Linked DNA regions of Homo sapiens. The protein of the gene in region 1 purifies or fractionates together with the protein of each later gene. This does not show direct contact. Each region holds a gene or a part of one and is shown in the gene's direction. Other genes may lie near its edges. The genes, in order: DDI2, TTC4, TOM1, ZNF578, ZNF222, ZNF549 and PARP12.

Evidence for each region.
Region 2: the proteins of DDI2 (region 1) and TTC4 fractionate together in Homo sapiens (co-fractionation; one large-scale study listed by BioGRID). This does not show direct contact.
Region 3: the proteins of DDI2 (region 1) and TOM1 fractionate together in Homo sapiens (co-fractionation; one large-scale study listed by BioGRID). This does not show direct contact.
Region 4: the proteins of DDI2 (region 1) and ZNF578 purify together in Homo sapiens (co-immunoprecipitation; one large-scale study listed by IntAct). This does not show direct contact.
Region 5: the proteins of DDI2 (region 1) and ZNF222 purify together in Homo sapiens (co-immunoprecipitation; one large-scale study listed by IntAct). This does not show direct contact.
Region 6: the proteins of DDI2 (region 1) and ZNF549 purify together in Homo sapiens (co-immunoprecipitation; one large-scale study listed by IntAct). This does not show direct contact.
Region 7: the proteins of DDI2 (region 1) and PARP12 purify together in Homo sapiens (co-immunoprecipitation; one large-scale study listed by IntAct). This does not show direct contact.

The regions. Positions count from the first base shown.
Region 1 is NC_000001.11:15,665,958-15,669,457, forward strand, and holds the end of DDI2 (protein DDI1 homolog 2), read left to right. Parts: 3' UTR 1-3,087; downstream 3,088-3,500. UniProt on the Homo sapiens protein: Aspartic protease that mediates the cleavage of NFE2L1/NRF1 at 'Leu-104', thereby promoting release of NFE2L1/NRF1 from the endoplasmic reticulum membrane.
Region 2 is NC_000001.11:54,732,861-54,736,360, forward strand, and holds part of TTC4 (tetratricopeptide repeat protein 4), read left to right. Parts: intron 1-768; coding exon 769-850; intron 851-3,500.
Region 3 is NC_000022.11:35,302,894-35,306,393, forward strand, and holds part of TOM1 (target of Myb1 membrane trafficking protein), read left to right. Parts: intron 1-3,500.
Region 4 is NC_000019.10:52,498,553-52,502,052, forward strand, and holds part of ZNF578 (zinc finger protein 578), read left to right. Parts: intron 1-3,274; 5' UTR 3,275-3,293; coding exon 3,294-3,356; intron 3,357-3,500. UniProt on the Homo sapiens protein: May be involved in transcriptional regulation.
Region 5 is NC_000019.10:44,024,142-44,028,178, forward strand, and holds the start of ZNF222 (zinc finger protein 222), read left to right. Parts: upstream 1-1,237; 5' UTR 1,238-1,295; coding exon 1,296-1,337; intron 1,338-1,884; exon of another isoform or gene 1,885-1,930; coding exon of another isoform or gene 1,931-1,945; intron 1,946-2,881; coding exon 2,882-3,008; intron 3,009-3,256; coding exon 3,257-3,349; intron 3,350-4,037. UniProt on the Homo sapiens protein: May be involved in transcriptional regulation.
Region 6 is NC_000019.10:57,525,922-57,530,155, forward strand, and holds the start of ZNF549 (zinc finger protein 549), read left to right. Parts: upstream 1-1,434; 5' UTR 1,435-1,652; coding exon 1,653-1,685; intron 1,686-1,688; exon of another isoform or gene 1,689-4,234. UniProt on the Homo sapiens protein: May be involved in transcriptional regulation.
Region 7 is NC_000007.14:140,028,452-140,031,951, reverse strand, and holds part of PARP12 (protein mono-ADP-ribosyltransferase PARP12), read left to right. Parts: intron 1-3,263; coding exon 3,264-3,339; exon of another isoform or gene 3,340-3,340; intron 3,341-3,500.

The DNA.
Region 1 (3,500 bases):
TTGGAGTTGGTGACTTAGTGTAGTCTGTGGCTGACCTAGAAAGACACAGAGTTATCAAGAGTTTCCCTTCCTAGAAGATGAATGTTACCTTTTGTGTTAGGAGGTAGAGAAAATAAAAATAGCTTTTTTTTCCCTAGAATTGCTAATTACTCTTAACAACAAATTAAATTCAAAGCCTGTCCTTGAGAACTGGAAATGTAAAATCATGGTTCAAGTTTTATACCTTAGTGATTCCTCAGTAGGTGTTACTAGGAGTTCACTGAATGAACTTAGGAGTGAACCTTCGATGTGCTTGATTTTCTTTTGTGCCTTAGTTTCTCTGAATAGCAGAGGCATCAAATTTTGGTGGGGAATGAGAGGAGTATTAGGGGAAAGTTTGAAAATAGCTCTCCTGGAGATGGAGGGCACACAGAGTGGTCCTCAGGCTCACCTTGACTGAGTTGATTCACAGTTATCCTGCATCAGACCATTAGATTTCTTTAGTGCTATGATTATAATAGGGATTTTTGAATCACCAAAAACAGTTTTTAGATGTTTATGTTCTTTGTTTTACTATCAATGTTGTGCTGGTTAAGGGAGAGAAAAGTTCAAGAAGATCTTACATATTTGAAAGGAAATTGGTACTCTTGAAGGCTATGCAACATGAGTCTTTGAACAAGAATTCCTTGCTACTTTGATTCATTCATCAAATACTGAGTGCCTGTGTGCCAGGCACAGGTGAACTCTGGGGATTCAGGGGTAACTAAAACAGATTGGAACCCTGCCCTTGTGAAGCTTTCAGTCTAGAAGGGAGACGTGAAACAAATTTTAGCTTCAAAAGCAACATCTATTTTTGCCTGTTAGCATGCATTTATTTTAAAAGTCATATTAGAGTTACCTGGTTCCACTTCAGAGCAGACTGGGAAAATCAGGCTTACAATGGAATCAGATGCTGTGGGCCTAAAACAGCTCTTTAAAAATCTATTTTTTTAGGCCAGGTGCGTTGGCTCACACCTGTAATCCCAGCACTTTGGGAGGCCAAGGTGGGTGGATATGAGGTCAGGAGGTCGAGACCAGCCTGGCCAATATGATGAAACCTTACCTCTACTAAAAATAAAAAATTAGCCGGGCATGGTGGCACATGCCTGTAGTCCCAGCTACTCGGGAAACTGAGGCAGAAGAATCGCTTGAACCCGGGAGGCGGAGGTTGCAGTGAGCCGGGATCACGTCACTGTACTCCAGCCTGGGCAAGAGTGAGACACCGTCTCAAAAAAAAAAAAAATTTTTTTTTAAATGGAATCAGAGAAACCAACAAAATATGTAACATGTATAAATGCCTGAGGAGATCAGTTATTGAGAAATCCATTTACAATGCTGGAGGAGAGGGGATGGCCAGGAAAGAAGTGCAACAAATAAATGGAAGATGACCCTAAAAATGCACCAGTGACAGTCAGTCAATCCATCAGACCACCTCACATGCAGGGTAGAAACATGGAGTGTGCGGCAGCATCCTCCTCACATCCCTTTGTGAGCACGGCTGCTCCGGAATACTGACCATCTGGGCTAGCACGACTTAGCAGAGGGTTCTGCAGGATGTGCTATTTTAAAGCAGCTGGGTGCAACTTGTGAAAACGGGAATCTAGAGCAGAACATGTAATCAGCGATGGCTGGGATTGGTGGACAGGATTGACAGGAGTATTTGAGGCTCTACCAGGCCTGTCTACAGGACAGCTTCATCAAAGGGACATTTTTTAACCTGTTATTTTAAATGCCACATATATGTTGTAATGCTGAAGCATACAGGTAGAATTTCTGGATCGTAACTACTAGTGACTTCTGAGGTTTACAGTTAGAAAATGTTCTCAAAGGTTTATCAGTTATGTATTGATGATTGGTAATCTAGACCCTCTGGAGGCTGTAGAATGTGAAAAGATACAGCTGAGCTGACAAGTTTTAGGGCACTATCTTCTGGAATGAAATCGGCCAAGAAAATGGTTCAAGGGCATGGGGGTTAGAGAATGTTTCTTTTACCTAAAAATGTTAAGCCAACTATGGAAGATTGGGGTCGTGGGGGCATGAAATACAAAATTATGATAATTTATACAGAACTAGGTTTCTTTATGTTCTGCAAGAAGGTTTTTATTAGCTAATTTGGGGAGGGGGGCATGCTGCAGTATTTTTTTTCCTGGGAACATGCATTTCTGATGGGAAGTTATTTTGTTTACAAGAGTTGGTTTTACACACAACCCTGAATGAATGTGTCTATGGCCTAAAAATGGTAGACCTGTATTTCCTTCCCGAGGCAGGCTGATTCGTTTCCTGATTCCTTCTGTCTGAGATTACCTGATGCTGACCAGACTTATTTTTCCTTTCCTGAATCTTCACAGCTGAGTTTATGGCACCCATCCAAGACCTTCCCATTTGAATGACTAGATTTCTATTCTATCCCCGATCATCCTTTTGAAATAGTTCTAGTGATAAACTCAGAGAAATTCAATATATTGATTGAATTTTATTTTTTCGCTTTGTATCTACAACAGAAATTGATTTGTTCATTTTTATTTCAAATCTCTTCATGGCAAGTTGGGCTAATGGACTTTGCACTCAAGAAAGGTTTGTTTACCAGTTTTGTAGCCATGTTTGGCAAATCTTAGCAACTAGAAACCCCGTCCTTTCTTTTCCTTCTTTATATGTTCTTGCAGTTACTCTTGTATTGCAAGATTTTCTGACTTTAAGCTTTGAGACTACTGCATCTTAAAAGAAGAACTAGGCTGACTGGCAAAAAGTCTTGCCAGTGGCCCTGTCACTCCCATGATGCTTTGGTTTTGAGAGTTGGGAAAACTCTGAGAACTTAAGGGAACCAAACTCAGGAATCCCAAAATTGGTGGCATTGTGCCATTCGTTTAGGGGCTGAACATAGGACCTGTCTGAAACTGAGTGAGCTAGATGCATTTGGGTTTGAATTTTTGTCACATACTGAAATGTAAGTCAGCCCTAAATAATCAAAACACTTTATTTTATTTTTCTTTTTTTAAATAGGAACTTTCTGAAGAAAAAGTGGTGTGTAAAACATTTGATATTTAAGACAATAAAGTTTTTATCATAAGACTTCTGTTTGATCAATTTCTTTTAAATTGAGGTGGTTACTTCAGTTAGACAAGGTGGTGTCCTTGTCTCTATCTCCCTACTCCTTTAAATAGCTTATACCCAGACATTGTAATTTATGGCGTGTACCTGAACCCCAGAAGAAGTGGGCCTCTCAAAGCCATTAACTTCCAGATTAGTACTGCGGGAGGACAGCTCCCTGCTGATGTAAAAGATGCGCATTTTGGGCCAGGCACGATGGCTCACACCTGTATTCCCAGCACTTTGGGAGGCCGAGATGGGCGGATTACTTCAAGACCAGCCTGGCCACCACGGCGAAACTCCCATCTCTACTAAAAATGAAAAAGCTGGGCGTGGTGGCATGCACCTGTGGTCCCCACTACTCAGGAGGCTGAGGTGAGAGGATTGTTTGAGTC
Region 2 (3,500 bases), about 39 Mb from region 1:
GGATCACTAGAGGCCAGGAGTTCAAGACCAGCCTGGCAAACATGGCAAAATCCCGTGCCTAATAAAAATATAAAAAATTAGCCGGGCATGGTGGTGCATGCCTGTAGTCCCAGCTGTCTGGGAGCCTGGGGCACGAGAATCACTTGAACCCAGAAGGTGAAGGTTGCAGTGAGCAGAGATTGTTCCACTGTACTCCACACTCCAGCCTTGGTGACAGAGCAAGACTTTGTCTCAAAAAAAAAAAGAAAAGAAAAGAAAAAAAGAAAATCCTGTCAGTCAGGTGCAGGGCTCACACCTGTAATCCCAATAACTTTGGGAGGCTGAGGCAGGAGGATAATTTGAGCCCAGGAGTTTGAGACCAGCCTGGGCAATATAGGGAGACCCCCATCTCTACAAAAAAAAGAAAAAAATTAGCCAGGCATGGTGGCATGTGCCTGTAGTCTCAGCTATGCAGGAGGCTAAGGTAGAGGAATTGCTTAAGCCCGGAAGTCGAGGCTACAGTGAGCTGTTATCATGCCACTGTACTCTAGCCAGGGTGACAGAGCGAGACCCTGTCTCAAAAAAAAAAAATAAAATAAAATAAAATAAAATTATGTCATAATAGGACAAGTGATACATATACACATTTGGGGTACTGCTGTCAAATGGGTTAAGCCTGCATTTCATGTTTTATACATTCTAGATAACTTTGAATTAGTGTCTGGGGACCGATGTGGGAAAATAGATCATGAGTTATTGATACCCAGAAAGTACATGTTTTATCCTTAGGTTTATTGATCATCTAATGGTGATGTTTGGTGAAACACCCTCTTGGGACCTAGAGCAAAAATATTGCCCTGATAATTTGGAGGTAAGAGAAGTTTTATTTCGTTCCTCTATGGAATTAATTTTTTTTTTTTTTTTTTTTTTTTTTGCGGCGGGGGAAGCAGTCTGCTTTATTTTTTTGAAAATTATAGTAAAATATACATGACATAATATTTACCATTTTAACCATTTTTAGGTATATAGGTCAGTGGCATTAAGTACATTCACATTGTTGTGCAACTATCACCACCAGCCATCTCCAAAACTTTTTCATCTTCCCAAATTGAAACTCTAAGTACTTCATATAAGTGGAATCATACAGTATTTGTCCTTTTATGTCTGGCTTATTTCACTTAGCATAATGTCTTCAAGGTTCATTACATATTGTATCATGTGTCAGAATTTCCTTTTTTTTTTAAATTTTTGAGACGGAGTCTCGCTGTTTCACCCAGGCTGGAGTGCAGTGGTGCGATCTTGGCTCACTGCAACCTCTGCCTCCCAGGTTCAAGCGATTCTCCTGCCTCAGCCTCCTGAGTAGCTGGGATTATAGACGCGTGCCACCACACCCAGCTAAGTTTTGTATTTTTAGTAGAGATGGGGTTTCACCATGTTGGCCAGGCTGGTCTCGAACTCCTGACCTCAAGTGATCCACTCACCTCCGCCTTTCAAAGTGCTGGGATTATAGGTGTGAGCCACCATGCCCAACCAGAATTGTTTTCCTTTTTATTTATTTTTATTTTTTGAGACAGAATCTCGCTCTGTCACCTAGGCTGGAGTGCTGTGGTGCAATCTCAGATCGTTGCAACCTTGCCTCTTGGTTCAAGTGATTTTCATGCCTCCGGTTCCCAGGTAGCTGGGATTACAGGCATGTGCCACCAAGCCTGGCTAATTTTGTTTGTATTTTTAGTAGAGATGGGGTTTTGCTATGTTGGCCAGGCTGGTCTTGAACTCCTGGCCTCAAGTGATCCGCCCTCCTTGGCCTCCAGAAGTGCTGGGATTACAGGTGTGAGCTACCGTGCCCAGCCAGAATTTCTTTCCTTTTTAAGGCTGAATAACATTCCATTGTTGGGATTTTTTAAATAAAAAATCACAATATCCAGTATAAAGAATTACCTTTTTCTAACATTTGAGAGTAGGATGCCAGCTGATGTCCCATTACCCCTGAATACTTTACTGTGTATTTCCTACACAAAAGGACATTTTTCTTTATAATACCCATATAGCTATCAAAGCAGGAAATTTACATTAATTCACTGTTACCATCTAACCCTCAGACTCCATTCAGGTTTCACAAATTCTTTATAGCAAAAGGGTTTTGTTCAGAATCACATACTGTATTTAGTGATCATGTCCCCTTAGTCTCCTTCAGTATGGAAGAGCTCCTCAGTCTTTCCTCCACTTTTTTTTTTTACTTAAAAAATTTTTATTCATATTTTTGTGATCCTGTGACTCAACTGCAGGACACTTTGAAGATTACAGACCACTTATTTTGTAGAATGTCTGTCAGTATGGGTTTGTCTCATGTTTCCTTCTGACTAGATTTGGATTATACATACTTGTTTGTTTGTTTTGAGATGGAGTTTTGCTCTTGTTGCCCAGGCTGAAGTGCAATGGTGTGATCTCGGCTCACTGCAGCCTCTGCCTCCAAGGTCCAAGCGATTCTCCTGCCTCAGCCTCCTGAGTAGCTGGGATTACAGCTACTCAGATACCACGCCCAGCTAATTTTTTGTATTTTTAATAGAGATGGGGTTTTGCCGTGTTGGCCAGGCTGGTCTCAAACTCCTGACCTCAAATGATCTGCCCGATTTGGCCTCCCAGAGTGCTAGGATTACAGGTGTGAGCCACCATGCCCGGCCTGGATTATGCATATTTGGCTGGAATATTACAGAAGTGATGCTGTATTCTCATTGCACCTATCAGATGGTACATAATCTCCATTTGTCCCATTACTCATGATGTTCACTCTGATCACCTGATTGAGGTGGGGTCTGCCAGCCTTCTCCACTGTACAGTTACTTTTTCTTTATGATTAATAAGTGTTTTATAGGGAGATGCTTTGAAATGGTGTAAATATCCCATTGCTCGTCAGATATTCAACATATTTATTTATATTGGTGGATTTATAGTTTCCTGTTTCATTTAATGAGTTTTAATCTGTTACTATGATTGTTTCTTTTATGCTCAGAATATCCCAGATTTGGCCAGTGGGAATCTCTTCAAATTTGTTTCTGTGTCCTTTTGACTTGTGTCTATTTTTTAAGTGGTTGCTTTCTTACATAGGATGTTCTAGGTTCAGATTGCGCTTTCCTTGCCCCAGCTCTGGAATTAGCTATTTTTTCCCAAGAAGCCCTGGTTCTTTCTAGTGAAGAATGGTATTTAGAAGCCGAGATCTCTGTGCAATAAGTGTATAAGTGTATCGATTAATACAATGGGGGTAGAGAGGCAAGCTTACTGCCTCAATGCCTTCTCAGTGCCACAGCTTGGGGGAGAAAGAGAGAGAAAGAAAGAAAGGAGAGAGAGAGAGAGAGAGAGAGAGAGAGAGAGAGAGAGAGAGAGAGAAGAGGAGAGGAGAGAGAAGAGAGGAGAGAGGAGAGAGAGAGAGAGAGACCATGAAGTCTCATTGGTATCTCCAACTCTTAATTCAACATCCACAGGATTTTTTCTCCCTTTCTATATTTGTAACAATGACTTTCTTC
Region 3 (3,500 bases), on another chromosome or scaffold:
CTCCCTGGCTGTGATTACTGATGACACAGTATAGCTGCTTATAATTCTGTAAACCAGGCCCCTCCTTGCTGCAGGAGTACCATCTCTTCTCAAGCCTGCCGACTCCCATGCCCTTGTTGATAGTAGAGCTGTAGAGCCATATGGAATTGACATCCCTCAGATGGTGATTCTAATGATGCTAATCAGGAATGAGTGTCAGTCACTGGAATCACAAAGTTCTCATCCACCTCCCCTCCCAACACACACACACACACACCCCTTTGTGCTTGCTGGTCCCTCTGCCTGGGTTGCTTGCTCCTGTGCCCCCACTGAGGAGCTCCAGATCACCCTTCAAAGTACAGGGCATCATCACCTCCTCCCTGAGGCTTGCCCCAAGCCCGACGTTGCTCTTTTACTCTCCCTTTATCCTAGATCCTCAGGCCCCCTTGCCCTATGACTTTGGGCTCTGAATCTCCGCTTCCTCCTTGGTAGAATGTTACTAACAGCATCTGCCTCACAGGGTGGTTGCTGGAATGAAACAAGATAGTCCTCTGAGAGTGTCTCGCACAGTGTGAGTGTATGGAAACATTAGCTCTTCCTGTCATCATCACCATCATCATTTTTATTATTTCTTTTTTTTTTTTTTTTTTGAGACAGAGTCTCAAAAAAGGCTGGAATGCAGTGGCACAGCCTCAGCTCACTGCAACCTCTGCCCCCCAGGTTCAAGTGATTCTCCTGCCTCAGCCTCCCGAGTAGCTGGGATTAGAGGTGCACACCACCATGCCCGGCTAATTTTTGTATTTTTAGTAGAGATGGGGTTTCACCATGTTAGCCAAGCTGGTCTTGAACTCCTGACCTCAAGTGATCCAGCCACCTTAGCCTCCCAAAGTGCTGGGATTGCAGGTGTGAGCCACCACGCTTGGCTTATTTTTATTATTTCTACCCTCATTATACTAATATGCCACCGTCCCACTCTGTTAGTGGTTGTGCATGTCTGTCTCCACAGCTAGGCTGAACCTCTTGAGAGCAGGAACTGTGCCTTATTTCTCCAGACCCTCAGCACCTAGCACGGTGCCTGGCACATAGCAGGAAGGAGGAAGGGAGAAAAGGAAAGTAACATTTTGTGAGCAAACACCATAATAACTCTGCCAGGTATTCTGCTAGCGTCCTGGGTATTAATCTCATGGTGACCCTGTGCGGTTTTGCTATTTTTTTCCCATTTCACCAAAAGTCAGTCTAAGAGAAAGCATCGCTTTCCAGGGTTCCACAGCCACTCAAGGTCAGAATCCAGACCCAGGTCTTCTTTTGTACCCTCACCACACTGCCTCGAGCTGCCCAGTGCTTCTTTTGAATTGATGTCTGTCCCACCCTCCAAGAGCCACAACTCTTATTCTACCCTCAGATAAGGACATGTACATGGGTCTCACACTTGCAGGCCCCTCCCCTCATCGATGAGTAGGGGAGCTTCCCAAGGGCAGCACCCGTAGCTGAGAGGATTCCAGATCCTTTGTACCAGCTGGTGTTGTCACAGCCCTCTTCTTTCAAGGATTTCAAACCCTTTCCAGATATTCTCTGCAGACAAATCTTACTGGATCTGTTTTGTTTTTTGTTTTTTGTTTTTTATGAGACAGAGTCTCACTCTGTCGCCCAGGCGGGAGTGCAGTGGCGCGATCTCGGCTCACTGCAAGCTCCACCTCCCGGGTTCACGCCATTCTCCTGCCTCAGCCTCCCAAGTAGCTGGGACTACAGGCACCCGCCACCACACCTGGCTAATTTTTTGTATTTTTAGTAGAGACGGGGTTTCACCGTGTTAGCCAGGATGGTCTCGATCTCCTGACCTCATGAACCACCCACCTCGGCCTCCCAAAGTGCTGGGATTACAGGCGTGAGCCACTGCACCCGGCCTACTGGCTCTGTTTTATAGACAGATATCAAGAAACCCATTTTCCATTTCTGGCTGTCAGCTTACCCCTAAGCACTTGGAGTCCAAATCCTAGCTGATTGCCAACAGTAAGTTGCAAACAACAGAGATGGTAAATATGGGCAGTCCCTGGGGATGAGCCTCAGTGGTTGGGGTGGTGGGAGCTGGGTGTGAGGGGAGAAGAGCCCAGAGCCTGAAGACTGAGCCCTGGAGGGGAAAAGTGAAAAAGTCAGAGAGAGCTGTCTTTGAATCCACAAAAGCCAAGCCGGGGGAGCCACAGGAAGGAATCACAGAAGTGAGAGACCACTTCAGGCCCTTGGGGGCCAGTTGGGGAATGATGGGCTGGAAAGTGGACACTTAAGCGATGTTGAGGAGACACCAGGCTGGGAGGCGGGACACCTGGTTCCAGCTCTGGTTCTGCTCCTAACTATGTCACGGTCCCTCTCCATTGCCCATCTCCCCTATTGGCAACACAGAGGTGCTGTCATTCTCCCTCTGCTTCCCAGAGGATTGGTAAGGAACGACAGAGGTCATATATAGGGACAGGGAAGGGTTGATGCCAGAGGGAAGAAAGAAACTGATGGCGGGCCAGGCACGGTGGCTCACGCCTGTAATCCCAGCACGTTGGGAGGCCGAGGCGGGTGGATCACGAGGTCAAGAAATTGAGACCATCCTGGCCAACATGGTGAAACCCTGTCTCTACTAAAAATACAAAAATTAGCTGGACGTGGTGGCACACGCCTGTAGTCCCAGCAACTTGGGAGGCTGAGGCAGGAAAATTACTTGAACCTGGGAGGCGAAGGTTGCAGTGAGCCAAGATCACGCCGCTGCACTCTAGCCTGGTGACAGAGTGAGACTCAATCTCAAAAAAAAAAAAAAAACTGATGGGTGCTGGGGAGGACTGATAGAACTGAATGTGCAGGGCTCCAAGGGCATGGTGTGTGGTTACAGGAATAAGCAGTTCGGTTTCAGTATAAATAGCTATCCCCAGAGCCTTGCAAAGATGGAACTGGCTGCCTTGTTCAGTAGTGAGCTCCCCACCACTGGAGCTGTGAAGGCAGAAGCCGGGGTGGGGAGGGCGACTATAAAGAGGATTCCTGTGTTGGTTAGCAGACTAGACCAGGGTCAGTGAGCTTTTTCTATAAAGGGCCAGATAGTAAATACTTGTGGCTTCGTGAACCAGATGGTCTCTGCTGCAACTACCCAGTTCTGCCATTATAGCACAAAAGCAGCTACATAGGCCATAGGTAAATGAATGAGAATGACTGTGCATAAATAAAAATATTTATGGGCAATGAAATTTGAATTTCACGTAATTTTCACATATCATGAAATATTATTCTTCTTCAGCTTTTTTTTTTCCCAACTATTTAAAAATATAAAGACCATCTGTAGCTCGAGTACCATACAAAACAGACTGAATTTGGCATATGGGTTCATAGTTTGCTGACTTCTGAATCGGAGCAGCTGGCCAGAGGCAGAATGATGGAGCACACTGTTCCTCAAAGTGGGGTACCAGAGCACCCACACTGGGGATGCTTGAGGGTGCTTATCCCCACAGTGTGCCCATGTGAGCCCTAATATCTTGAAGCTTCTGTTT
Region 4 (3,500 bases), on another chromosome or scaffold:
TTGTGTATTTTTAGTAGAGACGTGATGTCACCATATTGGCCAGGATGGTCTTGAACTCCTGACCTTGTGATTTGCCCACTTTGGCCTGCCAAAATGATGGGATTACAGGAATGAGCCACCTCGCCTGGCCGCTTTTTTTTTTTTTTTTTGTAAGACAGAGTGTCACCCTATCACCCAGGCTGGAATGCAGTGGAACAATCTTGGATCACTGCAACCTCTGCCTCCCGGGCTCAAGTGATCTTGCGTCAGCCTCCCAAGTAGCTGGAACCACAGATGCACGCCACGATGCCTGGCTAATTTTTTGTATTTTTGTTAGAGATGGGGTTTACTATGTTGCCCGTGTTGGTCTCAGACTTCTTGGCTCAAGTGATTGGCCTGCCTCAACTACCCAAAGTGTTGGGATTTCAAGGGTGGGTCACCATTCCTGGCTGGTCTTGGAATTTTCTAGAGGAGGAAGACCAAGGCAGCCTATTGGCCCTTTCAGGCCATCACATTGGAATCAGCCACACCTCCTTCCTCCTCACCTCAGAGCTTCTCAGGATAACTTGGTGAAATGTCTCCCGCTGTGAGCCTTAGTGAGCCCACCTGTAACATAGAGGTGAGGAATAAGATCAGAAAAGCTCAGTCAGTGACACTGACCCCTGAAACGACTGACAAAATACAGTGTGTGACTTTTCTTCTGGGAGAGGATAATGGTCATTTTTAACTCAAATTTCAAATGAATTCCAGTTCTCCAAGATGAGCAAAAACAGGGGATTAGACTCAAATCACCTTGAAGGTTATCATCTCACAGCTTTCACCCACCTACACGACTCCATGTCCCCTGCAGGCCTCAACCCTGAGCTCTACAATCCTGTGTCCAGTAGTCTCCTCAGCTCTCTCCTGGGACATCAAACAGGCATCCCCACCTTCAGCTGTCCATAAGTGACTTCCTAAATCCCCAAACACATTCCCTTGCAGTCTGCACATCTCAGATGAGAGTGAATGTGTACTTCCGAAAACTTAGCTGAACTTGACAGCACATATTTTAAATATGGGAAATACATTACATTATTTGTAAGTGTTGTAATTTATAATACATAGAGAAACGTACATGTATATGTGAAAAGAGTGAGAAGATACATCACTTCCAAATCGTTTTTTTTTTTTTGAGATGAATTTTCACTCTTATGGCTGAGGCTGGAGTGCAATGCCATGATATCAGCTCACTGCAACCTCTGTCTCCTGGGATCAAGGGATTCTCCTGCCTCAGACTCCCGAGTAGCTGGGATCACAATCGACTTTCAAAATGCTTTTGGGTTGTGGGAGAAAAATGTTTGAAGACCATGTCCCTATGGGTCTGTGCCCCCAGGACCTCTCTGACCTCATCTCCTACCTGTGCCCTCCTCTCTTCCACTGTTCCAGCCCCACGGGCCGCTTTCCTTTTCCTGGGGCTGAGGTTGCTCCTGTCTCAGGGCCTTCACTTGAGCTGTCCCTCTCTCTAGGATGCTCTTCCCCTCAGCTGCAAGTGACAAGCAGCCTTTCTTTCCTAGGTCCTTGTTCTGATATCATCTTCTCCGGGTCTCCTTTGTGATCTCCCACAGCCCTCATTCGACACTGCGGCTGTGAAATCAGAAAATCTTACAGAGATCTCAGTTAATTTAGAAAGTTTATTTTGCCCAAGGTGGTCGGCGCAGAGCTTAATTTTATACATTTTATGGAGACATGAGACATCAATCAATATATGTAAGAAGTACGTTGGTTTGGTCTGGGAAGGTGGGAGAACTTTAAACAAAGGCAGGAAGACTTGAAGCAGGGAAGGGGCTTTTAGGTCACAGAGAACTGAGGCACAAATGGTTGCAATCTTTTGAGTTTCCTTTTTTTTTTTTTTTTGAGATGAAGTCCCATTTTGTCACCCAGGCTGGAGTGCAGTGGCACGATCTTGGCTCACTGCAACCTCTCCCTCCTGGGTTCAAGTGATTCTCCTCCCTCAGCTTCCCAAGTAGATGCCCAGATCATTTTTGTATTTTTAGTAGAGATGTCTTTTCACCATGTTGGCTGGGACGGTGTCGACCTCTTGACCCCAAGTGATCTGCCTTCCTCGGCCTCCCACAGTGCTGGGATTACAGTCCTGAGCCACTATGCTGGGTCTTTCTTTTGAGTTTGATTAGCCTTTCAAAGGAGGTACTCAGATAGGCATGTATGTCAGGGAGCAGAGGGGTGACTTTGAATAGAAGGGGAGTCTGGTTCCCTAAGCAGTTCCCAGCTTGACTTTTCCCTTTTGCTTAGTGATTTTGGGCCCCAAGATTTATTTTCCTCTGGTCCACATTGACTGTTTTGTGTGACTTTTTTTTTTTTTTTTTTTGAGATAGAGTCTTGCTCTGTCACCCAGGCTGGAGTGCAGTGGTGGGATCTCGGCTCACTGCAACCTCTGTCTCCTGGCTTCAAGCAATTCTCCTGCCTCAGCCTCCTGAATAGCTGGGATTATGGGCACCCGCTACCATGCCCAGCTAATTTTTGTACTTTTAGTAGAGAAAGCATTTCGCCATGTTGGCCAGTCTGGTCTTGAAGTCCTGACCCTGTGATCCAGCCGCCTCGGCCTCCCAAAGTGCTGGGATTATAGGCGAGAGCCCCTGCGTCTGGCCTCTTTGTGATTATTTTTGTGCCTTTGTCATCCACTGTCTGGATCCTGGTGAGAACTTGGCCCCAAGCGGAGGGCAGAGCCAGAACGTGGGGCTGTGCTGGGCTCGCCCCCTCTGAGTGGAGCTCAACCCTGGCTTCACATTAGAGTGCGGAGCATTTTGCAAATAGAGCTTTTGTGCCGCTTTAGCAGGGATTCTTATTCTGACGGGATGGAACCCACCCTCAGTAATACCTGCAGTGGCGCAGGTGCTTGTCATCTGTGTGCAGCATTGAGCATGGAAGCTCTGAGTCCTGCATTTCTGAGGGCTGAGCTCAGCCTGTGATCCACAGAGAGGTGAGGGGCTGTCCTCTGGATGCGGTTTGATCAGGGATGGGTCTGTGCCCTGAAGGAGAGATCAGTCCAGCCCAGCTCCCCACTGCTGCCTCGTGTGTGGTGGCTGCTCCAGGAGGGGGGCGAGATCTGAAGACCAGGGTCAAACATACACTTATAGGTCTTCCTGTGGGACTTTCTTATGTCTGCATGATCTCTGGTGCAGTGGGCAGTGGGGGGGGCTTCTTTGTACAGGGTGATGTCTCCCCGTTCCTGTGTTTTTATCACAGGAAGGGAGTGAGTCATATCTAACCTGAAGTCTTATTTTTCTTCCACATACAGGATTGATTTCTAAAGACTCATGTTACATGAGGAAGCAGCTCAGAAGAGGAAAGGAAAGGAGCCAGGCATGGCTCTTCCTCAGGTGAAGTGATATTCCTCTGTGGATTAATCTGTCTCTTTCCTTTCTGAAGTGTAGTAGTATTATATTGTATTGTAGTAATGTATTGTAACAGCCAGTCTTTTCTGAGTCTGAAGCATTTTGCCTGACACGTTTGCTTGCACTCAC
Region 5 (4,037 bases), on another chromosome or scaffold:
AGCATTAAATAAATAAATTACTTAGGAACTGTCTTAACCAATGACAAGAAACACTTGGACACTGAATTTTGCAACATCTTACTAAAGAAAATTAAAGAAGGCACCCCAGGCATGGTGGCTTATGCCTGTAATCCCAGCACTTTGTGAGGCCCAGGCAGGCGAATAACTTGAGGCCAGGAGTTCGAGATCAGCCTGGCCAACCTGGTGAAACCCCTGTCTTCACTAAAAATACAAAAATTGGCCAGGTATGGTGGTACGTGCCTGTAATCCCAGCTACTTGGGAGGCTGAGGCAGGAGAATCGCTTGAACTCAGGAGGCGGAGGTTGCAGTGAGCCAAGATTGTGCCACTGCACTCCAGCTTGGGCGACAGAGTGAGACTCTGTCTCAAAAAAAAAAAAAAAAAAATTAAAGAAGGCGCAAATAAATGGAGATATATCCATTATTAATGGATTGGGCGACTTGATATTGCAAGGCTGTCAATACCTATATCTATAGATTCAATGCAATCCTTAATCACAGTAACATTTTTCTCAGAAATGAAAAAATCCACCTGAGATTCATGTGAAATATCAAGGGACACTCTCTCCCATGGTCATATTTTAGACCTCGTCATTTTCTAGCAAATATTCCTCCATAATAATTTGCAGCACTACTCTCCAACAACTTTGACTTGTATTTCCACCTTGGTCCCACCAGCATGCTAGCATCAGTAATATTAGAACCTCGCCAATACCTACAGTCCACTGAGACGATCACCTTTTTACTCTTTCAACTCCTCGTGTACTCACAGCCTGCCAAGCACATTTCTTGTCAGGAGAGGACAGCTCACTTCTCCTAATGTCTCACTTCCCAAAATTGTGTCCCATGAAAATTTCTAGCTAGATGAAGGCAGAGAAAGAAAATATTTGATTTCTTAGGCTTTATGGAAGCGATAGGAATGGCAATAGTGGTTTGGAATGGAGACTGCACGCACCAGTCAACAGGGTGTGTCCCGAATAAGCAGTGGGTAAAGGACATTTACTGAAATGCTATCTCCAACTCCACTTCAGGAAAGCTTGCTGCAGAGTTAGAGTGATATAGTCCAAATGCTCTGTTTGAGTCGCGGGCCCTTTGTCTCACACGGGCGAGTCCGGGGAATTCTGGGAAGTGGAGTCCACACGCTCTGTGGAGGCTCGAGCACTTCCGGTCCCCAACTGTGACGTTGCTATTTCATTTACCACAGTAGTTTGAGTCATTTCCACATCTTGCGAGTCCTTCCGAACGAGTCTCCTTTCCTTGGGGCTCGCAACCACCCAATGATCGATTCAGGAGAAAAGAAGCCTGGGCGGAGAGCAGAGGTTTGGAGGGGCGCGGGCGGGGATTGCCGTTCCAGTCAGCTGAGCCTTCTGGCGTCGGGGGGCTCTGCTAGGGTCTCAGGGAGTGGGATTGGCGCGGCCCGGTGTGCCCTACTTTGACCTCGCTTAGTCCGCCTCCCTCCTCCCTACGTGTGCAGCCCCTTTCAGTGTGGTGTGGAGTGTCACTTAATGTCCGTTTATCTTCCATTGCTGGTTCGTTTGTTTGTTTGTTTTGTAACGGGACTTTTCGGACCATCCTAATGGATTCATTTTGGGACCTGAAAGAGGTAACACAAATGAGAGCCTTAAAAGCAGTCCCTGTCACTCGGTGTCTGGTGGTCTCTTGTTAATTTCCCACGAAGCCTGTCAGGTCCTCTGGTGGGGTCAGAGCTCCAGCTGCAGGGGCGCCGGCCCTTCTGCCTGATCCCTGCAGGACGCTGGATGATCCCTGACGCCTTCTGACCTCTTTTTAGGAAAGTGAGGGGAGCATTTAACTTTTATGGGGGACGGCAAAACGGTCAGGGTGTTTCACAGCTTTCTTTTTCCCCAGCCCGACCTTTCTAAAAGAGCTGCAGGAAGGGACTTCTTGGCTACTGATGGCAAAGCTCTACGTGAGTGATCCTTGGCTTTTTTTCTTTGACAGAGATGCTTACCTCAACCGAGAGTGTGTAGGATTTGTCCCTCGGGCATGGGTGTCGATAATGATTAAGCCTTAATTGGTAACTTTATTCCAAGTACTTTATACCCCAAAATACATGATCTTCACAGTGGCACTGTGGAGAGGTGCTGCTTTTTTCATTTTAAAGATGGGCGTGAGACACAGGTGGAGCAGGAGTTGAAACCTAGGCAGTCCAGGTTAGAGCCTGAGTTGATCATCTCTTGAATGCAATTCTCATTGAGGCAGAGGTACTAGCTGGGAACAGGTGGAGAACGTAAGTTAGGACTTGATTGAAGGCACCTTGAGGCAAGGCTCAGGGGCTTGGACTTCTATAGGAGTTTTTGTTTGTTTGCTTTTTGCTTTTTAATTTTTTTAACCTTATCTACTATTTTCTTTCTCTCTCTCTCTCTATATATATATATATTTTTTTTTTTACAGAGTTTCGCTCTTGTTGCTTAGGCTGGAGTGCAGTGGTGCAATCTTGGCTCACTGTAACCTCCGCCTCTCGGGTTCAAGTGATTCTCCTGCCTCAGTCTCATTTTCGTCAAAGGGCCCGCGACTCAAACAGAGCATTTGGACTATATCACTCTAACTCTGCAGCAAGCTTTCCTGAAGTGGAGTTAGAGATAGCATCTCAGTAAATGTCCTTTACCCACTATTTATTCAGGACACACCCTGTTGACTGGTGTGTGCAGTCTCCATTCCAAACCCCTATTGCCTAATCAGTCATTGTCAGGACACAAACAGAATAAGTAGGAAATCTATAAGCTGACCTATGTCTCTCAAGATCCAAAACAACTTTACACTTGTCCCTTGTGCCAGTGCAATGCTGCTGTCTCCCAATAGTCTTTGGCCGTAAGATTGAGGTGACATCTGCTTGATGTTGTAGGAGGCAGTGACCTTCAAGGATGTGGCTGTGATCTTCACTGAGGAGGAGCTGGGGCTGCTGGACCCTGCCCAGAGGAAGCTGTACCGAGATGTGATGCTTGAGAACTTCAGGAACCTGCTCTCAGTGGGTGAGGACGGGCACCCCCTGTAATGGAATGTCAGGCCCCAGGAGTGGTTTTTTAATCCTAGGGTTTTCAAGTTTGAGTGTGCAGTGAGAACCTACATTTCCAGTAAATTTTGCCTGGCTATTAGGTTGGTGCAAAAGTAATTGTGGTTTTTGTCATTGGAAGTAATGGTACACTGCAATTACGTTTGCACCAACATGATATTACCTTGAACATGTTGGGATTAAGCATGTGACTTTGCCTGTTCACAGGGCATCAACCATTCCATGGAGATACTTTCCACTTCCTAAGGGAAGAAAAGTTTTGGGTGATGGGGACAACAAGCCAAAGAGAAGGGAATTTGGGTAAGAACCAAGCAATTGTGTGTCCCTGCATGTGATTCCTGTTACTTCTGTCCATGCCCATTTCCAGCATTTTGGGGTAAATGGCCAAACCTGTTTCCTGGATTATTACAGCCTTCTCCCTGCTGATGCCCCTGCTCCCACCCTTCCCACCCTGCCATCTGTTCTTACGGTAGCCAAAGTGATCCGTAGGAAACGGAAGTCACATTGCCATTCCTCAGCTCAAAGCCTTTCTGGCTTCTTGTTTTTATTAGTGTTACAACCTCTTTAAGTGGCTTTTGTAGACCCTGTGATCTGCCCTTCATCCCACACTGTCTGACTGCATCTCCTGTCCTCTCCCCCTTGCTCCATCTTTTCCAGGCACCTTGTCCTCCCTGCTGTTTCTCTATCCTGCCAAGGACATTGTATTGCCTATTGTGGCCGGTGACATAAAACTCAGCAGACTGAACAAGAAACACTTATCTTTCTCTTCTGTAGGCCTGAAGTCTGACACATCTCACTGGGCAAAAATCAAGTGGTCTTAGGGCTTTGTTCCTTTCTGGATGTTCATGGGGAGAAGACTTCATTTTGGTTTACCAGTCTCTAGTCACTGTCCACACTCCGTGGCTCTTGTTTCCCTTCCTCCATCTTCAAAAGCAGCTACATTGCATCCCTGACCATTCTTCCATAGTCATGCTTCCTCTGCCACTCT
Region 6 (4,234 bases), on another chromosome or scaffold:
AGCTAAACTCCCCCTCCCCTATTTAGATCAAGGTATAAAAAGAAATCTAGCCCCTTCTTCGGGGCCAAGAATTTTGAGCTCTAGCTGTCTCTCGGTCGCTGGCAATAAAAGGACTCCAGAATTAGTCTCAGAGTGTGGCATTTCTCTATAACTCGCTCGGTTACAACACTATAGCCAAAGATTACATTCATAAAGATATTTTTACAATATAGGTGTCTTATTTAATATGACTCCAATCTAAATGGTAATTTTTCTAACCTTTCTTAAGTAATTATAAAATGTCAAAATTATAAACAATTAAAAACTAAAGAGAAATGAAGACAATGGATAGCAACAAAAGCTAATTGCTAAATATGGGGGAAAAAAGCCAGGCATGGTGGCTCATGCTTGTAATCCCAGCACTTTAAGGCAGGCGAATCACTTGAGGCCGGTTCTAGACCAGCCTGGCCAACATGGTGAAACCCTGTCTCTACTAAAAATACAAAAATTATCCGGGGGTGGTGGCGCATGCCTGTAGTCCCGGCTACTCGGGAGGCTGAGGCAGGAGAATCGCTTGAACCTGGGAGGTGGAGGTTACAGTGAGCAGAGATTGCACCACTGTACTCCAGTCTGGGCGACAGAGTGAGACTCTGTCAAAAAAAAAAAAGGAAAAAAAGAAAAGAAAAAGAAGATATAATGTTTCTGCAATCTCATTTCAGTTCCACTTATGATAATAGATACATTATGTAATTTAAGTCACTAACACTTGAGGGCAAAAAAACAGAATAAACACAAACGTGTGGGATAAGGGGATGCTGACCCCACTGTTAGTGATCACCTTGGTTGGAGACCCAGGTTTTATCATACAGATGAAGCCTGCAGGTAGCAAGTTTCAGAGAAATAGATTGTAAATGTTTCTTATCAGACTTAAGGTCTATGCTGATGTTATTGCTGTAGGGGTAGAATGAGGCATGTCCAACCCCTTCTTCCATAATGGCCTGAACTAGATTTTCAGGTTAACTCTATAATGCTGAGAGGAGGGGGTCCATTCAGATAGTTGGGAGGCCTTTGAATTTTATTTTTGGTTATAGTTTCTACATTAAAAAAAAGAAAAAAATTAAGGGTCGCGTCAATTCTCAATTGTCAACATTTTTAATGTATTGTATGCAATATATGTCAACTTTTGTGTTGAGAAATGAAGATCAAATCGTATTCTTTTATCCTGTGTATGTAATAGGCTTTGCTGACCCTAGTTTGATGGGTTTTTTCCTTTGTCCTCTCTTTCTTGGATTGAGTCCTCACAGCGCGGCGGACTGCGGCGTGGTAGGAACTACACCACCCAGAATACTGTGCGCCGAGCGTGCCGGGGCCTTAGACCAATCATTGCCCAGGAAAGGGGCACCTCCGTAAGTGCGCAATACGCCAGAATCTTCCGGCGTCTTTCCGGTGGTGGTCGTTTTTGCTGCCTGCGAGCGCGTCCGCGGGCTGGGCGTTTCCGGCTCGCTGGGTCCGGGCCAGGTAACTGGAGCCGGAAACCGGTGGAGGTGGTGTCCGCCCGCAGAGGAGCTTGCCTGGTCTCGGTCTGAGCGTCGCCCAGCGATTTGCCACCGCACGCACGCCGGATCCCGGGCTTTACCGCCCGCCTTTCCAGGCCCCGCCCCGCCTAAAGTCCCATGGCCGAGGCAGCGCTAGTGATTACGCCGCAGGTGAGAGCGGAGTCCTCGGATCCTCACCTGGGTCCTGAGGCCCCGGACTGGGGTCACCTGCGTGGGTCTCTGCAGTTCAGGCCTCTTCTCCAGGACAGCGAGGAGTTCTGGGTGGGGTCCTCAGAGCTGACGGGCGGTGAGGTGAAGAAGGGAGAGCGTTGCGTACCGTGGGGGCTGCACGCGCAGAGCCTGGGAGGTGCGCCGGGGTCGCGAGCATTCGGAAACTTGGGGGCGGACCTGTGTCTGCAGGGAGCAGAGAGAATGAGGAGAAGAAGGCACGGCTGCCATGGCAGCCTGAGCAACCGGGGTTTTTAATTCTGAGTCTTTGGGAGCCATGGAGGGTTGTGAACTAAAGGAGAACACGATCTGAGTGAGGGTCTGAAAAAATATTTCAAAGGCAATGAGTGGAGAAAACAGACTGTTACGGAGTGATGGGGGTGGACGCAGGGATACTGGTGAGGAGACTGCTGTAGTAGGCTCCAGGAGGATTATGGTGGATTCTGGACCAGACGGGTTGCTGAAGGGACCTAAGTAATAAGAATCTTGGTAGATCTTAAAGGTAAAGCCAGCAGGATTTTCTGCTCCATCATTTGTGCCTATGAGCAAAAGTGGGAGTGAAGTATGATCCCAAGTTTTTCTTTTACCTGAACATCTGGAAGAGTTGACAAAGAAATCTGGTGAGGGAGCAGGTTTCAGGGAAATAGTAGGAGTTGAATTTTGGACGTGGTGTTTCTAAATTGCCACAGAGTGAAGTTGTTACATGGGCAGTTGGAATCATAAGTAGAAAATTCATGGGAGGGGACTGACTCAGTGATGTGTAAATGGAGACAGGCTGGGGCGTAGACTCAAGCCAAGCCTTAAATTTAGACGGGAAATCTTAAGGTTTTACTTTGAGATGAAGAGAGGGAGGGCTGAGGCTGGAGGCTGGGAAAGTGTGGGTCGGCCTTGGCGAAGCTGCCTGCAGATAGGAGGGCCATGGGGTTCCGGGGGTACTTCCAAAGGGAATGTGTAAGGAATACACACTGCATAGGATGGATTTGAGGGTGGGACACTGTGTAGAGTCACCATTCAGAAGACTTGGCGAACTGTTCACTCTATGTGGAGCCAGAGAAAGGTCAGCCAGACTAGCAGAGAAGCCCAAGCCCAGCAAGAGCAGCTCTCCCAGGAAAATACAAGTTTAGACTGTATAGATTTAACAAATTAAATTTATGCAAGCAATTAGTTAACCGAATAAAATGTCACTATAACTCTGTGCTCTAATAAAAAATAAATGTTTGTTTTTTGTCATGCTTTCCTGGCACAGAATTCCTAAAATCGTTGTAATTTCCTCAGTGAAAAGTGTCTTGTGATAAGTCATGGACCGCATAACAACAGTGTTGACCACATCAGTGACGGTGGTCCCATAAGATTATGATACCATATTTTTACTGTACCTTTTCATTTTCTTTCTTTCTGATCAGGAGGCAAACTGCATTTTCTAAGTTTATAAATGTTTAAATGCACAAATAATTATCACTGTGTTACAGTTGCTGACAGTATTTAGTATAGTAACTTGCTGTACAGGTTTGTAGCCTAGGAGCAATAGGCTATACCATTTAGTAGTTGAACAATGAATGTCTGAACAGTAGTTCCCCCTTATCCTCAGAGGATACCTTTCAAGAACCCCAGCGGAGGCTTGAAACTGCAGATAGTACCCAACCTATATATACTATGTTTCTTCCTAGACTACATACCTGTAATAAAATCCAGTTTATAAATGAGGCAGTATAGGAGATGAACAATAATAACTGGAAATAATATAGAACAGTTATACTTTATAAGTTAATAAAAGTTAAGTAACTGCAGTTGAGACAATAAAAAAGCAAAAGTTAAATTATAAAAAACATGTGAATGTGGTATCTCTCTAAATATCTTACTGTACTATTCACCCTTGTGATGAAGAAGGGACTAAACTCGATAGAGTGAGATTTCCTCACACTACTTACAATGGTGCACTGTTGGCCAGCGCAGTGGCTCACACCTGTAATCCCAGCACTTTGGGAGGCTGAGGCAGGCAGATCACAAGGTCAGGAGATCGAGACCATCCTGGCTAACATGGTGAAACCCCGTCTCTACTAAAAATACAAAAAATTAGCCAGGTGTGGTAGTGGGCGCCCGTAGTCCCAGCTACTCCGGAGGCTGAGGCAGGAGAATGGTGTGAAGCTGGGAGGCAGAGCTTGCAGTGAGCCGAGATTGCACCACTACACTCCAGCCTGGGCGACAGAGCGAGGCTCCGTCTCCAAAAATAAATAAATAAAATAAATAAATAAATAAATAAATAAAGGATGGTGCACTATTTAAAACATGAATTGTTTATTTCTGGAATTTTAATATTACTATTTTCAGACTGAAGTTGAAATTTAATACTTATAATTTTCACACTGAAGTTGAGTGTGGGTAACTGAAACTGCAAATAGCAAAACAGCTGATAAGGGAAGACTTCTATACTTGAGTTTTATGAGATGGCTTAGGGTGAGCAGACAAGGTGGAGTCTCTAGATAGCCTCAGAG
Region 7 (3,500 bases), on another chromosome or scaffold:
CTTTTGACTTTGCCTGTGAAGTATTTTACCATAAATATATATCTCTTATTATTTTAGTTAAATGTATCAGTGTCTTACTGATTCTGGATTTAGAGTTTTGGTTGATTATGACCCTCCTATTTCTGGAAGTCATTTTTTATTCTTTTCCTATACAAAGCCTACCCTAGACAAGGTTTGGAAAAGTCTCTCTGCTTTCTGAGAGTAGATCTCTCTTATTCTAATTTAGTTTTTAGGGGGCCACAAGAAGATGCCAAATGTCCAAACTAAAAGTGATTCAGACTAAGATATGGGTGATTTGGGGTCTCCTGTAAGCGGAGTGTCACACACTGTTCACACAGATGAAGTGTTCAGTTCTTCTCTCTGACCCATGTGCCAGCAGCTGGTTGTCATTAACTCCAGTAAGCAAGTCTGCCTGGGCCTGCATGGCCAATTGGGAATCTGAGGGTAGATCACTTTCAGAAACAACTTTTCTGTTTACACAATTAATGAGGTCATAAAATGTAATGTCCATATTCAGAAGTCATAATACAGGAGTGTCATGTAAAATTTATTTATGTATTTATTTATTTATTTATTTATGAGACAGGGTCTCACTCTGTCACCCAGGATGGAATGCAGTGACCTGATCACGGCTTATTGCACCTTCCACCTCCCGGGCTCAAGCAATCCTCCCACCTCAGCATCCCAAGTAGTTGGGACCACAGGCATGCGCCACCATGCCCAGCTAATTTTTTTATTTGTTGTGGAGACAGGGTCTCACCATGTTGCCCATCCTCTATGAAAATGTTTCATTCATGTGATTGGGTCTTATTTTTTCTTTTCTTACCTTCTTTTGTGTATATGTATATTTTAAAGGCTATGGTAGAAACTACATGTTCTTCACTTAAGTACAAGTAAATCAATATCTTTGCCCTCCTATCTTTTCTTCCATTTGCCTTCCTCTCAACTTTTTTTAAACCTCAAGAGGCACCATTATTTTATACTCTGAAAGTTTCATTAAATTTACTCACATTTTTACCACTTTGTCCTTTCAGATTACCTTAGATCAGGGGTGTCCAATCTTTTGGCTTTCCCAGGCCACATTAGAGGAAAAAGAATTGGTCCACACATAAAATACACTAACACTAACGATAGCTGAACTAAAAGAATAAAAACCACAAGAAAATCTCATAATGTTTTAAGAAAGTTTACAGATTTGTGTTGGGTCACATTCAAAGCTGTCCTGGGTTACATGCAGCCTGCGGGCTGCAGGTTGGACAAGGCTGCCTTCGATGAAGATTTGTTGGAAAACTGTTTTTGGTTTGTCTGAATATGTATGTACGTATGTATGTATGCATGTATGTATGTATGTATTTTGAGATGGAGTCGCACTGTCGCCCAGGCCAGAGTGCAGTGGCATGATCTTGGCTCACTGCAACCTCCGCCTCTTGAGTTCAAGCGATTCTCCTGTCTCAGCCTCCTGAGTAGCTTGGACTACTGGCGTGCGCCACCATGCCCGGCTAATTTTTGTATTTTTGGTGGAGATGGGGTTTCATTATGTTGGTCAGGCTGGTCTTGAACTCCTGATCTCAAGTGATCTGCCCACCTCGGCCTCCCAAAGTGCTGGGATTACAGGCGTGGGCCACTGCGCCTGGCCAACATGTATTTATTTTGCCATCAATCTTGAAGGAAATTTTCACTGGGTATAGAATTTTGGGTTGTAGGGATTTTCTCTTGGATCATTGTGATGATCACTCCACTGTATTCTGGCTTCCACTGTTGCTTTTGAGAAATTGCCTGTTGGTCTAACAGGTGCTTCTTTGACAGTAATCACTCTTTTTTCCTTTGGCTACTTTTAAGAGCTTCTGTTTGTCTTGGAGGTAGGCATCCTCACTAAAGTGTATCTAAGTATGTGCTTTTATTTATCATGGTTGAGATTCTTTGGGCTTCTTAAGCTGCGGATAGGTGCATCTCATCAGTTCTCTTTGAAAATCGCCTCCACTGTCTTGTCTCTCCTCTCCTAGAGCTTCACTTAGGTTCTGATCATATTCAAGTTCTCACTGTTCTCCATGTCTCAACTTCTTTCCTGCATTTTCCATTTCCTTGTTGCTGTGGGCCACATTCTGGACAATTTCATTTCACATATGTTTCAGCTCACTGATTCTTCCTCCAGCTGGTCTAATCTGCTATTAAGCCTGTCCACTACACTTTTATTATTAAAGATTGTACTTAATTCTGTAAGTTCTATTTGGTTCTTTTTTAGATCTTCCAGGTCTTTTTATAGTTTCCTGTTCCTTGCATATGTTTTTAAAGTTTGTCTTTTTTTTTCCTTTAAACATAGGAAGAATAATTGTTTTGTAATCTCTCTGATAATTTCAGCATCTTAAGTCTTTGTGGGTCTGTTTTTGGCTGATTCTTGCTGGTAGGACCTTGCTTAGTTATTTTTGAACTGTGCCATTTTCCCAGGAAAGTTATTTGTGGGAGTTCTTTGAGGCTTAGGATGAAGGTATATGTTTCATGCCAGCAGAAACAGAAGGTAGATCTATTTAGAAAGAACAGTGTATTCTGAAACTTAATAGGAATGATTTGTAATTATAGTTTCACAGTCCTTGTTCCTGAACCCTTGATCCATATGTCTTTTGAACTGCTTTTATTTAATTTTTAGAAAGATAATGTGATGCTTGTATCACGTGACACTCTGTATTTTAGCACATTAATATTTCTGCAGTAAACAATATGCATAGTCAGTTTAAGAAGGATAGATACAGATCACAGTGGCCTCTTACTAACTTCAGTCAAATTTCTACTGCCAAATGACTTTTGATGTCACTTTTATGTTTTTCAAAAAATGTTTTATTTCATATTTTCTCCTGCTTTTCCTGAGCTGTATAAAAAGTTTTAAAATGTCAATTATACCTCATCGAGGCCTTAAAAAAATGTCTTTAGAGCTCTTAGAATTTCAGAATTGTGGATAAAGGTTTATGGCTGTGTGTGTGCTCCTTTAACCATGTACTCCATCCCTTTTATCCCTTTTGTGTGGTAGTTGGGACACAGGCGAGAAATAGATCTCTCAGGACTGTTTGGAGTTTGGCTACATAGGCAAAGATAAAAGTGCTCTCATGTTGTGAATATCGTGCTAACATTCTTCCTTGCCTTCTACCTGCTCTTGAAATATGATGTGCTGAGACTCAAGACTGGTGATATTGGCTAGCAGAGACCACCTATGGTATATTTGCTTTGTGTAAGAATAAAATGTCTACGTGTTTTTGTTTACATTTTTGTAGCAATACCAAGTTTCCAGGCCCGAAGAGCATCCCAGACTATTGGGACTCCTCTGCCCTGCCAGACCCAGGCTTTCAGGTAGGGGACGCATGCGCCTGGGGCTGGACAGGAAGGTGTTCTGTAGAAGTGGGTGTGTGTGAACAGACTGTGCCATTCCTCAACACTGAAGAAGCTGTAAGGCTGGGGCTAATTGGGGCAGGAGGGCAGTGACAGATGTGGGCTTTATTTTTGTTTTTGTT